Linked DNA regions of Homo sapiens: region 1 is linked to region 2. Evidence: fine-mapped expression QTL. Tissue or cell type: whole blood. Region 2 holds a variant in brackets; the other region holds the start of a gene. All regions are shown on one strand. Distances are from middle to middle.

What was found. PIP is the estimated chance that this variant, and not a neighbour inherited with it, causes the effect.
Region 1: TM2D3 starts here. The variant in region 2 is fine-mapped to the expression of TM2D3 in whole blood (INTERVAL, PIP above 0.99).

What each region holds. Positions count from the first base shown.
Region 1 is chr15:101,647,852-101,655,958 of GRCh38, forward strand. It overlaps TM2D3 (TM2 domain containing 3), which reads right to left and starts at 4,530. Exons shown (of 6, transcript NM_078474.3): 1 at 4,420-4,530; 2 at 3,845-3,922; 3 at 2,153-2,310. The coding sequence starts at 4,510. It overlaps TARS3 (threonyl-tRNA synthetase 3), which reads right to left. Exons shown (of 19, transcript NM_152334.3): 19 at 5,745-6,879. The coding sequence ends at 6,731. It also overlaps the pseudogene RNU6-807P. RefSeq lists silencers at 4,118-4,677, 4,918-5,107 and enhancers at 4,768-4,827, 4,934-5,824.
Region 2 is chr15:101,882,212-101,890,318 of GRCh38, forward strand. It overlaps the pseudogene WBP1LP5. Among named protein-coding and RNA genes, the nearest start is that of FAM138E, 69 kb to the right of the region's middle. The variant C/T (reference allele first, on the strand shown) is at 4,341.

The DNA of each region.
Region 1 (8,107 bases), 230 kb before region 2:
GCATCATGTATATATATGTATACATATATATACACATACACACATTATTTTTTTTTCTTTTTTTGAGATGGAGTCTCGCTCTGTCGCCCAGGCTGGAATGCGGTGGTGCAATCTCGGCTCACTTCAACCTCCGCCTCCCAGGTTCAAGCGATTCTCCTGCCTCAGCCTCCTGAGTAGCTGGGATTAGAGACGCACCCCACCACGCCCAGCTAATTTTTGTATTTTTAGTACAGATGGGGTTTCACCATGTTGGCCAGGCTGGTCTCAACCTCTGACCTCAGGTGATTCACCTGCCTCGGCCTGCCAAAGTGCTGGGATTACAGGTGTAGGCCACCACGCCCGGCCCATGTTTGTTATTTTTTTTAACATTTCACAAATTTGCATGTCATTTTTGCAGAAGAGCCATCCTAATTCTCTCTGTATGGTTCCAACTTTGGCATATGCGCTGATGAAGCAAGTACTATTCATTTTCTTATCAATGCAAAAACCACTTTTTATGGAAAACATTCAAATATGGGTAAGGCATCACTTGATTTAGGCAAACAGTTGGATCTGCAAAATAATACGTTTACATCTGCCTATTTTCAGTGATGTGCTTAAAACACACTTTTTTTAATGGTTTTTTAAAAAGTAGGTGACACATGTACATGGAACACATGTCAAGACACAACAGGAGAGTGAGAAGTGAGCCGGCCTCGTCTGGCCCAGCCGCCGGGAGCCCCTGCCCTCCCCAGGCCAAGTACGCTCTGTGCTTCCAGAGAGAGCTGATTCTACACATAGGCACATTTATGTCACCTACATTTAATGTTCCCCAATACTTTCACTTAATTTTGGACATCTATCAGTACATTACCTCTAGAGCTGCCTAGTTCTTTTTAATGGCTACAAGGTGTTTATTCTATTACACGTGTACCATAAATTAAGCAGTTCTTAGACATTTCACTTCTTTTGAATCTTTTGCTTTAATGAGCAATGCAGCTAAAAAATAAGCACACTTATCTGCATCCATGTATAATGATATCTATAACATAAATTCCTACATGTACAACTACGAGCTCAACGATTGTGTGCATGTGTAAGTTTAACAGATATGGCAAATCGCCTACAAGAGGTTGATCAATTTGATTACCTATTAATAAGATATGAGCATCTGACCCTTATACTCTCACAAACTCAGAGTTAATCAAATTAAAAAAAAATTGCCAATCTAAGGGTTAAAAATGTATTAATTAAATACTATGAGAAAACTTATATGTTTTTCATGTTATATATCTATTTGTATTTCCTTTCCTATGAACCATCTGCTCATGTCCTAACACTGTTTTTCTACAAGACTGTCATCTTTTCCGTGTGGGTTTTAGGAAGTGTTTATATATTACTGATATTACTGTATTATTTGTCACATATTCTAGAAACGCTTTTTCCTAGTTTGCCATGTCTTTTGCCTTTATGCTTTTTTTTTTAGGTCATGCAGAAATCTCCAATTTTTAGGAGTCAAATGTATCAATTCTTTATTTTATGGCTTCTAAACTTTATTTCATACTTAGAAAAATATTCTCCATTTTGGGATTATAACAGCAACTATCTGGTGTTTTCTGTGGTACTTCAGGGTTTCATTTTTCACATTACATCTTTGGACTATCTGGAATTTATTCTGGATAAGACAGGCGTTCCACTTAATTTTGTTCTAGAGAGCTACCAGGCATTCCGGCATTTACTGAATCCATCTTCTCACCACAGATAAGCACTGGCCCTTCAAAAGCTCATCTATGGCAGAAAGACACTGCCACCCCCTCTGTACACTAGCTGTCACTATTGAGAACACAGAATCCATCTGAACGAATTAGACTTGCTTCAGATATGCTAGTAGACTGAGATCTTCTCCAGTCCTACAAAGCAACATTTCTGTCAAGTGCATTTCCAGCAGACATCAACTGGCTTGACAGTTATCATTATAACTAAAACAGTAGTGAGCTGATATGGAAAGGTCTATTGGGTTTTTTAATTTATTTCTGCTTACATACTCAAAAGGGAAATCATAAAAGAATATAAAAATTCTTCAGAATTTCTTCCCAATAATCAAGTCTGAATTGTTCTTCTAACTTAAAGTTTACAATGAATTTATTTAGAATAAGTAAGCTGCAGTACTTACAACACAGGTAACAGATGGTTTCACTGCACAGTCAAAAGTGACAGGCTTCCCATAGGTACAGGAGAAATTTGTTGTGCAGTCTATACAGTCTGCAGGAAGCCTGCTACACAAACCATTGCTCGGACACTTCATCACATAAGGTGGGATTTCAGTACTTTCTGTGAGAGGCAAGAGAGAAGCTTATTCTCCTATAATACTGATTCGAATAACAGAGAACAATCTTCTAAGGTTAAGAGACGTGATCATTAGCAAGTAGACACTGCACTGGAAGGGAAGAAGCATGGGACTGGAGTCAGAGACACCTGCAATTAAAGCAGAATTCTGCCCACGGCCAGCTGTGGGACCTGGTGAGCACCACACTTGTAAAACATTACTTCATTCCTGCCTCCCACGTGGCCGTGAAAACTAAAGGTGCTCATATACAAATAATGTATAGAAAATTCTGGGTATACATTAAGGGCTTAAAAAAAAGACTATCATTTTGTAAGTTGAAAAAAAACTTACAGTAGGGTTTTGCAAAATCACAGAGGAAGTCTGTGGCAAAACTGGAACTAGAACCCAAATCTCTCCATTTCCAATCCCGTGTTCTTTTCATCTGAATTCACTAATTCAGAAATGAAGCCACTGACATCCTCAGGGCATCAACTTTAAAATGTCATTATTTCACACTGGTACTTCGATAAGCCACATTTGCTAATATAATATTTACAGTTTTACGCTACCAAAGTTCAAAACAGTTCTCTACTTTAATAACATCTTCAGTAAGCTGCAACTTATTTCCAACCAACCTAATGAGTGTGCAATGTATTTTTACCAACTGAAAGGATCAAAATTGCAAGTATTCCTGAAAAGAAGGGCTTTCAAAAGCCTGCAAGAGTTAAGAACTCTTGTGCTTTCTCTAAAAAGTAATCTGAGTTTAAAATTCAAGTGCACTGCTGTTTTTTACATCCAAATAAGAATCAGTAAAATATCTCTGCCAGTTTCAATTCACTGAAGTAATGTCACTTTAAAGTGATGAAATTATAGTCAGAGCCTCCACCTAGCAAAACACACTAATGCTTGTTTAAAACTGGTCCTACTTTACTCACTGTATTAAGGAACAATTCTACAAAATACTCTTTTTGATCCCGTGACTATGTGGCTGGAAGGTGGACACTTAGAATCACAAAGCAGAAATGACTTTAGGTCGTCAGACCAACCCCACCGCTTTAAAGATGAGGACCAAGGTCCAAAGAGGATAAATAATTTGTTCAAGATCCCAGTAGCAAAACCAGATCTAGATTTCAAGTCTCCATCAGTCCCGCTGTAATCCTTCCATTTCCACAGTCCTGAGGGAGCCTTTAATATTCCAACATCAGGAACAGGGTTTTAGCAGTAGAGGAAATTTGCTGAAGGGAAAGAAGCACGGACTGAAGGTTATTTTGATGGATGAAGTGGAAAAATAATAGAAATAAGGTGACAAATGAGCGTGGGATTGGAAAAAGAGAGGAGGCAGAAACGTCAAAAGGTATAAATACGAAGACTATCTACTGAAAATGGCTGTGTATCTACCCTTAATTCACATAATCTAAAATACAATAAATATTCAAAAATGGAAAGTGACTTCGTATACTAAAGGGAATTTTTATAAAAACAAAGAGAAACTACTAGAGATAACTACATGTATTTACTAGAATAGAAAACGTCTAGTACCTGCTGCCCTGGGAACTACTGTGAATGTGCGTGTTGGGCCCGGATCCTTTATTGACTGAGCCAGCGCCTGCGATTGCTCTAAATTTAAGGATCGTACAATTAGAGAAACACGTTATCCCGGGACAAGAAAACCTTATTTTGTGTGGTTAACACGGCGGGTCTACACCAGGCCAATAAGCTGCTCATGAAAACCTCACGGCTGGTCAGCCAGAAAACACAAAGCTTAGGGACGAAACGTCAACAGAGTAGACATCAGTTCAGGTCAGCCGGCAACGAGGGACCGAAGGATGACATCGCGCTCCAGTTCCGCCTCCCCGGCCCAGCCCCCAAGCGCTCCATCTCCGTGCCAGGGCTCCGCAGCCGCGATGGCGGGCTCGGTGTCGCCGGAGCGGAGGGGCGGCCTCGGGCCGGGCGGCCAGGGCGCCAGACTCCAGATGCAGCGACAAGCGGCCCGGAGCCCGGCACTCGGCCTCCTCCCCGCGTCAGCGTCCGCCCGTGGGCCCGGCCTCCTCGCAGCTCCCGGGGCCCTGCTGCCACTCAGCCCCACCCGGCGCTGAACCCAGCCTTTGACTCACCACCGCCCGACAGAATGCAGAACTGCGAGAGGAAGAGCAGCACGCGACACAAGGCGCGGAGGCCCCTCAGCGGGAGCACCCCTCCCGCCATCTTGCCAGCGCCTGCGCACTTCCGGGCCGGGGGGCGGGGCGCGCCTGGGAGCCGGAGCGTGAACTGGACGCAGGCGCGCTGCGACTCCTGGCGGCCGGCGTTTGCGCTTTCGCTGTCCTCGCGCGGGTCGCGGGTTTTCTTCCGGTTGAGCCTTCTGGGAGGTCCCCGAGGAGGATGCGAGCCTGGGAGGTTGTTCCATTTCCACGCGCCCCTCACGCCCTTGGACGAGGCCCTCACCCCTGGTTCCACTGCAGGAGACCTGTTAAAGGTCATCCGTGGACCGAAATGCGCGCCCGAAGCAACCAAGAGCAGAGGCGGGCGAACGCGGGAGGCTGGCCGCCCCAGTGTGTGGTCGGATGTTGTGTGCTGGATCTCGTGCGAAGGTTCCGAGGACACTATCGCGTGGCGTTTCATCCTAAAGACACTTATTTACAGTCGGGGAAGCGGCCCCGGGACGACGAGGGCCCGAGGGACCCCTCCCCTGGGGCCGGCGCTCAGGCCTGCCGCGGCTTTCACTTCTGGCCGGCCTCTTGAAGATACGCAGCACTTCCAGAAAGTTCCTCTCAGGCCTGGAGAAGCAGGATGGCCCGAGGCGCTGGGAAGTGAGGGGAGGGTCCAGAGCCCAGCCCTGCCTGGGGAAGGTCGCGGCCGTCTGGGGAGCCGCGCTCAGGCCCCAGCTTGCGGAGACCCTTGCCGGTTTCTGTCACAGCACACCTGGGAGAAAGCGCTGGTGACAGGTGCTCTCCTCCCACCCACGTGCTTCGGGATCGTTCATTCCGCGGTCTTCTGACTACCACCCCCTCACGTGCATGTTTGCTGAATGACTTTTTAAAAAATACATGGAAAAGTGCCGGCACATAAGCCCTGAATGTTAGCTTTAAAAATCGTATCACGGCCGGGGGCGGTGAATCACGTCTGTAATCCCAGCACTTTGGGAGGCCCAGGCGGGCGGATCACGAGGTTAGGAAATCGAAACCATCCTGGCTAACAACACGGTGAAACCCTGTCTCTACTAAAAATACAAAAAAATTAGCCAGGCGTGGAGGCACGCGCCTGTGGTCCCAGCTACTGGGGAAGCTGAGGCAGGAGAATCGCCTAAACCCGGGAAGCGGAGGTTGTAGTGAGCCGAGATCGCGCCACTGCACTCCAGCCTGGGTGACAGAGCGAGACTCCGTCTCAAAAAATAAATAATAAAAATCATATCACACAATCTGCACCTTATACTACTACACAAGCCTGATATATATTGTTTTGTTTGCCAACTGTTTCACTGTTCACATCCCTCAGGAAGTTAACTAAATGATCAGTATATTGAAAAGAGATTATTTCTTACATTTCTTTTGAATTTCACAGCATATCGCAAAATAAACAATACTTCTTGTTTGGTAGCTGAATTCTCTATTGACATAATGCCATTTTAATTCAGTTCTGAGCACGTAGAGCATTCCTCTCTTTAAAATCTGAAATCCATTTCAGTACATAAATCCATGGAATGTCATCCCATCAAAAAAGTAACAACTCTAGGTGAGCGGCTTAGTGGTGGTAGAAGCCCACAGCTGAAACGCTGGAAACACTGATGCAATTCATTTGGGAATTTATTTTTTTCTAAAGCGGAACAAAACCTAATTATGAATAAGAAACATTTAAATGGCAACTCTTAACCTATAGTGCAAACACCAGATTCCACAAAACTGAATTCCTTTGTCAGTAATCCAATATTTAGCAGTAGCTGCTGCTTTTGTGGTTGTTGGTTAGTTAAAATTAAGTAATGATTCCAGTTTAGAAGATAAAGTTTCAGTGTGAATTTTAGTAGAAGTCATAAAAATACCTGAGACATATTAGAAAATAAGATTTTCCCTCCTATTTAAAAAAAACTCTGCAGACTTTTATTTGAAGCCCATCTTTTGAAAATCACTAACATTTCATAATCATTTCCTAGTGTTTTGTTTCACTTTCTCGATGAATAATATTTCCCCATTTAAGTTTCTCAAGGCATTGATTGCTGGAAAATTTCCCACGTGCCCTCTAAACGTCCCCCGTGGACATGAGTAAATTAAACTTCGTGCATGTCAGCTACACGTTCATCGTCTCCTTTCTCAGCTGAGGCCATGAGTGGACCCATCAGTGGCTCCAAAGTCGTAGAAGTACTAACATGTTAAGAAAAATACATTTTTAAGGGTCAAAACAAAGTTACACAGAAGCAAATATCAGGGAAGGACTTCAAAAGGCCTCCTCAGCATTGAGTGTCCGTGTCTTCCTGAGATTCTTCAGTTTATCAATGGCAGAAGTTACTAAAATCTCTCCATGAATTTTGTTGTCTCTTGTTCGCACGTTTACAGCATTATCTATCTTTTCCTTTTCTCCAACCACTGCAGAAAAGAAAGGTAAAGAAATGTATTTTAAATCAGCAATTTACCAAACATTAAGTCAGCAGTCCCATGACATGTTTTTATCAAGTTTTTCTTCACTAATATTAAATATCATCTAATGAGCATTTGGTTCATCCTCTGATAGTTAAGTTTCTTGAGGGAAGCAATGACTTCTGATCCCATCTCTCTATTGTCCACCTGAGAGAACAGCTCTTGTGGTCCTGGGGTGCAGATGAGAGGGGGGAGCTCTTACAGACTCACACTGACTGCACCTGGCACTAGGGCGCAAATGAGAGCGGGGAGCTCTTACAGGCTCACAGTGACCCCACCTGGCACTAGGGCGCAAATGAGAGCGGGGAGCTCTTACAGGCTCACACTGACCCCACCTGGCACTAGGGTGCAAATGAGAGCGGGGAGCTCTTACAGGCTCACACTGACTCCACCTGGCACTAGGGCGCAAATGAGAGCGGGGAGCTCTTACAGGCTCACACTGACCCCACCTGGCACTAGGGTGCAAATGAGAGGGGGGAGCTCTTACAGGCTCACAGTGACTCCACCTGGCACTAGGGCGCAGATGAGAGGGGGGAGCTCTTACAGGCTCACACTGACCCCACCTGGCACTAGGGTGCAAATGAGAGGGGGGAGCTCTTACAGGCTCACAGTGACTCCACCTGGCACTAGGGCGCAAATGAGAGCGGGGAGCTCTTACAGGCTCACAGTGACTCCACCTGGCACTAGGGCGCAAATGAGAGCGGGGAGCTCTTACAGGCTCACACTGACCCCACCTGGCACTAGGGCGCAAATGAGAGCGGGGAGCTCTTACAGACTCACAGTGACTCCACCTGGCACTAGGGCGCAAATGAGAGCGGGGAGCTCTTACAGGCTCACAGTGACTCCACCTGGCACTAGGGCGCAAATGAGAGCGGGGAGCTCTTACAGACTCACAGTGACTCCACCTGGCACTAGGGTGCAAATGAGAGCGGGGAGCTCTTACAGGCTCACACTGACCCCACCTGGCACTAGGGTGCAGATGAGAGTGGGGAGCTCTTACAGGCTCACACTGACCCCACCTGGCACTAGGGTGCAGATGAGAGCGGGGAGCTCTTACAGGCTCACGCTGACTCCACCTGGCATACCTGATGAGCCAAGGAGTGGACACCAGACCCATGCGAGCCAGCCAGAACTTTCTGGAATGTGGGTAAAAAGTTTGTTCTCTCTAGTGACCCAT
Region 2 (8,107 bases):
CAAACAGAGACAATTTCTTTCTCTTGCTTGATTGCCCTGGCCAGAACTTCCAATACTACATTGAATAGGAGTGGTGAGATAGGGCATCCTTGTCTTGTGCTGGTTTTCAAAGGGAATGCTTCCAGTGTTTCACCATTCAGTATTGGCTGTGGGTTTTTCATAAATAGGTCTTATTATTTTGAGATACGTTCCATCAGTACCTAGTTTATTGAGAGTTTTTAGCATGAAGGGCTGTTGAATTTTGTCGAAGGCCTTTTCTGCATCTATTGAGAGAAGCATGTGGTTTTTGCCATTGGTTCTATTTATATGATGAATTATGTTTATTGATTTGCGTATGTTGAACTAGCCTTGCATCCCAGGGATGAAGCCGATTTGATTGTGATGGACAAGCTTTTGATGTGCTGCTGGATTTGGTTTGCCAGTATTTTATTGAGGATTTTTGCATCGATGTTCATCAGGGATATTGGCTTGAAATTTTCTTTTTTTTGTTGTGTCTCTGCCAAATTTTGGTACCAGAATGATTCTGGCCTCATAAAATGAGTTAGGGAGGATTCCCTCTTTTTCTGTTGTTTGGAATAGTTTCAGAAGGAATGGTACCAGTTCCTCTTTGTACCTCTGGTAGAGTTCAGCTGTGAATCCATCTGGTCCTGGACTGTTTTTTGGTTGGTAGGCTATTAATTACTGCCACAATTTCAGACCTTGTTATTGGTCTATTCAGGGATTCAACTTCTTCATGGTTTAGCCTTGGGAGGGTGTATGTGTCCAGGAATTTGTCCATTTCTTCTAGATTTTCTAGTTTGTGTAGAGGTGTTTATAGTATTCTCTGATAGTAGTTTGTATTTCTGTGGGATCAGTGGTGGTATCTCCTTTATCATTTTTTATTGCATCTGTTTGATTCTTCTCTCTTTTCTTCTTTATGAGTCTGGCTAGTGGTCTGTTTATTTTATTGATCTTTTCAAAAACCAGCTCCTGGATTCATTGATTTTTTTTGAAGGTTTTTTTGTGTTTCTATCTCCTTCAGTTCTGCTCTGATCTTAGTTATTTATTGTCTTCTGCTAGCTTTTTGTATGCTCCTGCCTCTTGAGTTCTTTTAATTGAGATGTTAGGGTGTCAATTTTAGATCTTTCCTGCTTTCTCTTGTGGGCATTTAGTGCTATAAATTTCCCTCTACACACTGCTATAATTGTGTACCAGAGATTCTGGTATGTTATGTCTTTGTTCTCATTGGTTTCAAATAACTTATTTATTTCTGCCTTAATATCTTTATTTACCCAGTAGTTGTTCAGGAGCAGGTTGTTCAGTTTACATGTAGTTGTGTGGGTTTGAGTCAGTTTCTTAATCCTGAGTTCTAATTTAATTGCACTGCGATCTGAGAGACTGTTATAATTCTCATTTTTTTTTTTGCATTTGCTGAGGAGTGTTTTACTTCCAAATATGTGGTCAATTTTAGAATAAGTGCAATGTGATGCTGAGAAGAATGTATATTCTGTTGATTTGGGGTGGAGAGTTCTGTAGATGTCTATTGGATCCACTTGGTCTAGAGCTGAGTTCAAGTCCTGGATATCCTTGTTAACTTTCTGTTTCGTTGATCTGTCTAGTATTGACAGTGGGATGTTAAAGTCTCCCACTATTATTGTGTGAGGGTCTAAGTCTCTTTTTAAGTCTCTAAGAGCTTACTTTATGCATCTGGGTGCTCCTGTATTGGGTGCATATATATTTAGGATAATTAGCTCTTCTTGTTGCATTGATCCTTTTCCATTATGCAATGCCCTTATTTGTCTCTTTTGATCTTTGTTGGTTTAAAGTCTGTTTTATCAGAGACTAGGGTTACAACCCCTGCTTTTTTTTGCCTTCCATTTGCTTGGTAAGTATTCCTCCATCCCTTTATTTTGAGCCTATTTGTGTCTGTGCACGTGAGATGGGTCTCCTGAATACAGAACACTGATGGGTCTTGACTCTTTAGCCAATTTGCCAGTCTGTGTTTTTTAATTGGAGCATTTAGCCCATTTACATTTAAGGTTGATATTGTTATGTGTGAATTTGATCCTGTCATTATGATGCTAGCTGGTTATTTTGCTGTTAGTTAATGCAGTTTCTTCATAGTGTCAATGGTCTTTACGATTTGGTATGTTTGTGCAGTGGCTGATACCAGTTGTTCCTTTCCATGTTTAGTGCTTCCTTCAGGAGCTCCTTTAAGGCAGGCCTGGTGGTGACAAAATCTGTCAGCATTTGCTTGTCTGTAAAGGATTTTATTTCTCCTTCACTTATGAAGCTTAGTTTGGCTGGATATGAAATCCTGGGTGGAAAATTCTTTTCTTTAAGAATGTTGAATATTGGCCCCCATTCTCTTCTGGCTTGTAGAGTTTCTGCTGATAGATCTGCTGTTAGTCTGATGGGCTTCCCTTTGTGGGTAACCTGACCTTTCTCTCTGGCTGCCCTTAACATTTTTTCCTTCATTTCAACCTTGCTCAATCTGACGACTTTGTGTCTTGGGGTTGCTTTTCTTGAGGAGTGTCTTTGTGATGTTCTTCGTATTTCTGAATTTGAATATTGGCCTGCCTTGCTAGGTTAGGGAAGTTCTCCTGGATAATATCCTGAAGAGTGTTTTCTAACTTGGTTCCATTCTCCCCAACACTTTCAGGTACAGCAATCAAACGTAGATTTGGTCGTTTCACATAGTCCCATATTTCTTGGAGGCTTTGTTCATTTCTTTTCATTCTTTTTTCTCTAATCTTGTCTTCTTGATTTATTTCATTAAGCTGATATTCAATCTCTGATATCTTTTCTTCCGCTTGATCGAATCAGTGCTTCATCCTTGTGCATGCTGCATGAAGTTCTCATGGCGTGTTTTTCAGCTCCATCAGGTCATTTATGTTCTTCTCTAAACTGGTTATTCTAGTTAGCAATTGGTCTAGCCTTTTTTCCAGGTCCTTAGCTTCCTTACATTGGGTTAGGACATGCTCCTTTAGCTTGGAGGAGTTTGTTATTACCTACCTTCTGAAACCTACTTCTCTTAATTCGTCAAACTCATTCTCCATCCAGTTTTCTTTTGTTCCCTTGCTGGTGAGGAGTTGTGATCCTTTGGAGGAGAAGAGGCGTTCTGGTTTTCGGAATTTTCAGCCTTTTTGCTCTGGTTTCTCTCCATCTTCGTGGATTTATCTACCTGTGGTTTCTGATGTTGGTGACCTTCTGATGGGGTCACTGAGTGGCTGTCCTTTTTGTTGATGTTGATGCTATTCCTTTTTGTTTGTTAGTTTTCCTTCTAACAGTCAGGCCCCTCTGCTGCAGGTCTGTTGGGGTTTGCCGTAGGTCTACTCTAGACCCTGTTTGCCTGGGTATCACCAGCGGAGGCTGGAGAACAGCAAAGATTGCTGCCTGTTTCTTCCTCTGGAAGTTTTGTCCCAGAGGGGCACCCACCAGATGCCAGCCAGAGCTCTCCTGTATGAGGTGCCTGTTGGCACCTACTGGGAGGTGTCTCCCAGTCAGGATACACGGGGTCAGGGACCCACTTGAGGAGGCAGTCTGACCCTTATCAGAGCTCGAATGCTGTGCTGGGAGATCTGCTGCTCTCTTCAGAGCCATCAGGCTTTTCAAGGATGCTCAAAGTCTGCTGAAGCTGTGCCCACAGGCGCCCTTTCCCCTAGGTGCTCTGTTCCGGGGAGATGGGGGTTTTATCTATAGGTCTCTGACTGGGGCTGCTGCCCTTTTTTCAGAGATGCCTTGCCCAGAGAGGAGAAATCTAGAGAGGCAGTCTGGCTGCTGTGGCCTTGCTGAGTTGTGGTGGGCTCCACCCAGTTCAAACTTTCTGGTGGCTTTGTTTACACTGTGGGGGTAAAACTGCCTACTCAAGCCTTGGCAATGTGGAAGCCCCTCCCCCCACCAAGCTCGAGTGTCCTAGGTCAACCTCAGACTGCTGTGCAAGAATTTCAAGCCAGTGGATCTTAGCTTCTGGGCTCTGTAGGGGTGGGACCCGCCGAGCCAGACCACTTGGCTCCCTGGCTTCAGCCCCCTTTCCAGGAGAGAGAATGGTTCTGTCTTGTTGGCATTCCAGTTGCCACTGCGGCATGAAAAAAAAAAAACTCCTGCAGCTAGCTCGGTGTCTGCCCAAACAGCTGCCTAGTTTTCTGCTTGAAACCTAGGGCCTTGGTGGCAGAGGCACTGGAGGGAATCTCCTGGTCTGTGGATTGTGAAGACCGTGAGAAAAGCATAGTTTCTGGGTGGAGTGCACCGTTCCTCATGGTACAGTCCCTCGGGGCTTCCCTTGGCTAGGGGAGGGAATTCCCCCAACCCCTTGCACTTCCCGGGTGAGGCGAAGCCCCATTCTGCTTTGGCTCACCCTC[C/T]GTGGGCTGCACCCACTGTCCAACCAGTCCCAGTGAGATGAACCAGGTACCTCAGTTGGAAATGCAGAAATCACCTGCATTCTGCATTGATCTCACTGGGAGCTGCAGACTGGAGCTGTTCCTATTTGGCCATGTTGCCAGCAAATTCTGAGATTTTTTTTAAAAGTGCAAAGAAGGACATCTGAGGGGTGCTGACATATTCGGGTCACCTCAAGCCACATGCCAGCTTGCTTGCCCCTGTTGGATTCAGCGGAGGGAGATAGGCCTTGCTATACCTGTGGTGTCTGCCAAAGCTTCCTCCTGGCAATTCTTGGGAGTGCTGATACCTGGGCCACAGTTAGTCCAAGTTTATCACTGAAGATCCTATCAAAGTTTTGTCTGAAATTCCACTTTTGCCTTTTGTCCTAAGTGGTTGTGGACATCTCCAGGGGCTGATACCAAGGACTAGGAACAGCTGAGGGAGGCAGAAAGGTTCAGAGTACATTTCTATTTACAGGGAACAGAACACCGGCCTCCGAGAGTCCATGGAGCAATGGGAAAATTGCAGTGATTGCTCATCACTGTGAAACTTCTACTTTGAATACAGTATCTTCTGGCAAGCACTGGGGACTGCAGTCGACAATGCTGCTGAATATACCTGAGTACATAGTAAGACATTTGTTTGGTAAACAGTCAATGCATACAATAAATTACCTTGAGAGGGCCATCTGTGCTCCAGATGTGAGAGTTCATGTGAATAGAATGGCCACAATTCAAAGAATCTTCACAGGAAAACGGCTCAGAGCTCATCTACAATGGACAGACAGGGAGGGAAACAGGTGAAGATTAGTTCACCACTTCCTCATAAGAAGGTAATAAATAGTTTGGTGAAATAAAATGGTAGCACTGAGTAATTGCGGGCTTCTGGATAGGCAGTCAGGTTGATTTCATGTTGCTACTGCTAGACTTGAGGGCTGGCTTGGCTGTGGTGGCAGACACAGCAGCAGCTCAGGATGATGGTGATGGTCCATGCCAACCAGAACCATCAATGTTTATAGTAGTAGTTACAACACTGAGACTGCCCATAGCAGTGTCCTGTTGTGTCACAGATGTAGCTTTGATTGTTGGTACACACACAGGCTTCCTTATCCTGTGGGGGTTCAGCCCTGGCTGACACAGGGCTGGGCAGTGCCTAGAGGTGCAAGAGCTTCATGCCACCCAGGAGTCTTCCCTCCATACTCCTCCTGCTCCTCCGACCCAGCGCGGGCACCTCCCTCCACCCTTGCTGCACTTCTCCTCTACCCTCTTCTTCCTTCTTTTGTTCTTTTCCTGTAATATGTTTTGAAGTCAGATTGTGAGGCCTTCAGCTTTGTTCTTATTGCTCAAGAGTCCTTTAGTTATTCAGGGTCCTTTGTGGTTCCATATAAATTTTCAAATTGTTTTTTCTATTTCTGTGAAGAATGACATTGAAATTTTGATAAATATTGCATTAAACCTATAAATCACTTTGGGCAGTAAGGACATTTTAAGAATATTAATTCTTCCTACCCATGAACATAAAATATCTTTCCATGTATTCATGTCATCTACAATTTTTTCATCAATGTTTTATAGTGTTCAGAATACAGATCTTTCACCTCCTTGGTTAAATGTACTCCTAAGTACAATCCTAAATGTGCTCCTAAACAAAAAAAAATACGGTTTTTTTGATGCTACCGTGAATGAGATTGATTTCTTTATTTTTGTCATATAGTTTGTTGTCAGTGTAAAGAAACTACTGAGTTTTATACATTGATTTTGAATTCTGCAATTTTATTGAATTCATTTATCATTTCTAATAGCTTTTTGGTGGAGTTTTTAGGGTTTCCTATATATAATATGTCATCAAACAGAGACAATTTTACTTCTTCCTTTTCAATTTGAATATCTTTTATTTCTTTATTTGGCTTAATTGCTCTGGCTAGGACTTCCAGAAATAAGTTGAATAGAAGTAGTGAGAATAAATATCCTTGTCTTGTTCTTGATCTTAGCAGAAAAGATTTCACTTTTTCATTGTTGGGTATGATGTGAGCTGTGAGCTTGTTATATATGTCCTGTTTTGTGTTAAGGTACATGCCTTCTACGCCCAATTTGTTGAGAGATTTTGTCATGAGAGGATTTTGAATTTAGTCAAATGCTTTTTCTGCATATATAGAGATAGCTATTTTTTTTATCCTTCATTCTGTTAATGTGGTTTATCACATTTGATTTGTGTATGCTGAACCATCTGGAGGATAAATCCACTTTATCATGGTAAATGTTCTCCTAATGTGTTGCTAAATTCTGTTTGCTAGCACTTTTTTTTGAGGACTTTTGTATCTATGTTCATCAGGGATATTGGTTGACCCATACTTTTCTTATAGTGTCCTTGTTTGCCTTTTTATTTTTGTTTTTATTTTTTCGTTTTTGTTTTTTTATTATACTTCAAGTTTTAGGGTACATGTGCACAACGTGCAGGTTAGTTACATATGTATACATGTGCCATGCTGGTGTGCTGCTCCCATTAACTCATCATTTAACATTAGGTATATCTCCTAATGCTATCCCTCCCCCCTCCCCCCACCCCACAACAGGCCCCAGTGCTAATATCCAGAATCTACAATGAATTCAAACAAATTTACAAGAAAAAAACAAACAACCCCATCAAAAAGTGGGCAAAGGATATGAACAGACACTTCTCAAAAGAAGACATTTATGCAGCCAACAGACGCATGAAGAAATGCTCATCATCACTGGCCATCAGAGAAATGCAAATCAAAACCACAATGAGATATCATCTAACACCAGTTAGAATGGCCATCATTAAAAAGTCAGGAAACAACAGGTGCTGGAGAGGATGTGGAGAAATAGGAACATTTTTACACTGTTGGTGGGACTGTAAACTAGTTCAACCATTGTGGAAGACAGTGTGGCGATTCCTCAAGGATCTAGAACTAGAAATACCATTTGACCCAGCCATCCCATTACTGGGTATATACCCAAAGGATTACAAATCATGCTGCTATAAAGACACATGCACACATATGTTTATTGTGGCACTGTTCACAATAGCAAAGACTTGGAACCAATCCAAATGTCCAACAATGATAGACTGGATTAAGAAAATGTGGCACATATACACCATGGAATACTATGCAGCCATAAAAAAGGATGAGTTCATGTCCTTTGTAGGGACATGGATGAAGCTGGAAACCATCATTCTCAGCAAACTATTGCAACGACAAAAAACCAAACACCACATGTTCTCACTCATAGGTGGGAATTGGACAATGAGAACACATGGACACAGGAAGGGGAACATCACTTTAAAAAAAAAAACAATAATGCTGATCTTTTAAAATGAGTTTGGAAATACTCTTTCTCCTTCAAGTTTTTGGAAGAATTTCAGAAGGATTGTATTATTATTTTTTAAAATGTTAGAATTCAGCAATGAAGTTTTCTGGTCCTGGGATGTTCTTTGATGGGAGATGTTTTATTATTGATATACTCTCCATACTCAGTATTGTTCTGTTCAGATTTTATCTTTCTTCTTGACTTTCTCTAGGTAAGTTGCATTTTTCTAGAAATTTATCTGCTTTTTCTAGGTTATCCAATTTGTTGGCTTGTAATTGTTTATAGTGGCCTCTTATGATCCTCTGTATTTCTGTGGTATTAGTTGCAATATTTCCTCTTTCATTTCTGATTTTATTGCTTTGAGTATTCTCTCGTTTTTCTAGTCTAGCTAATGGTTTGTCAGTTTTGTTTATCTT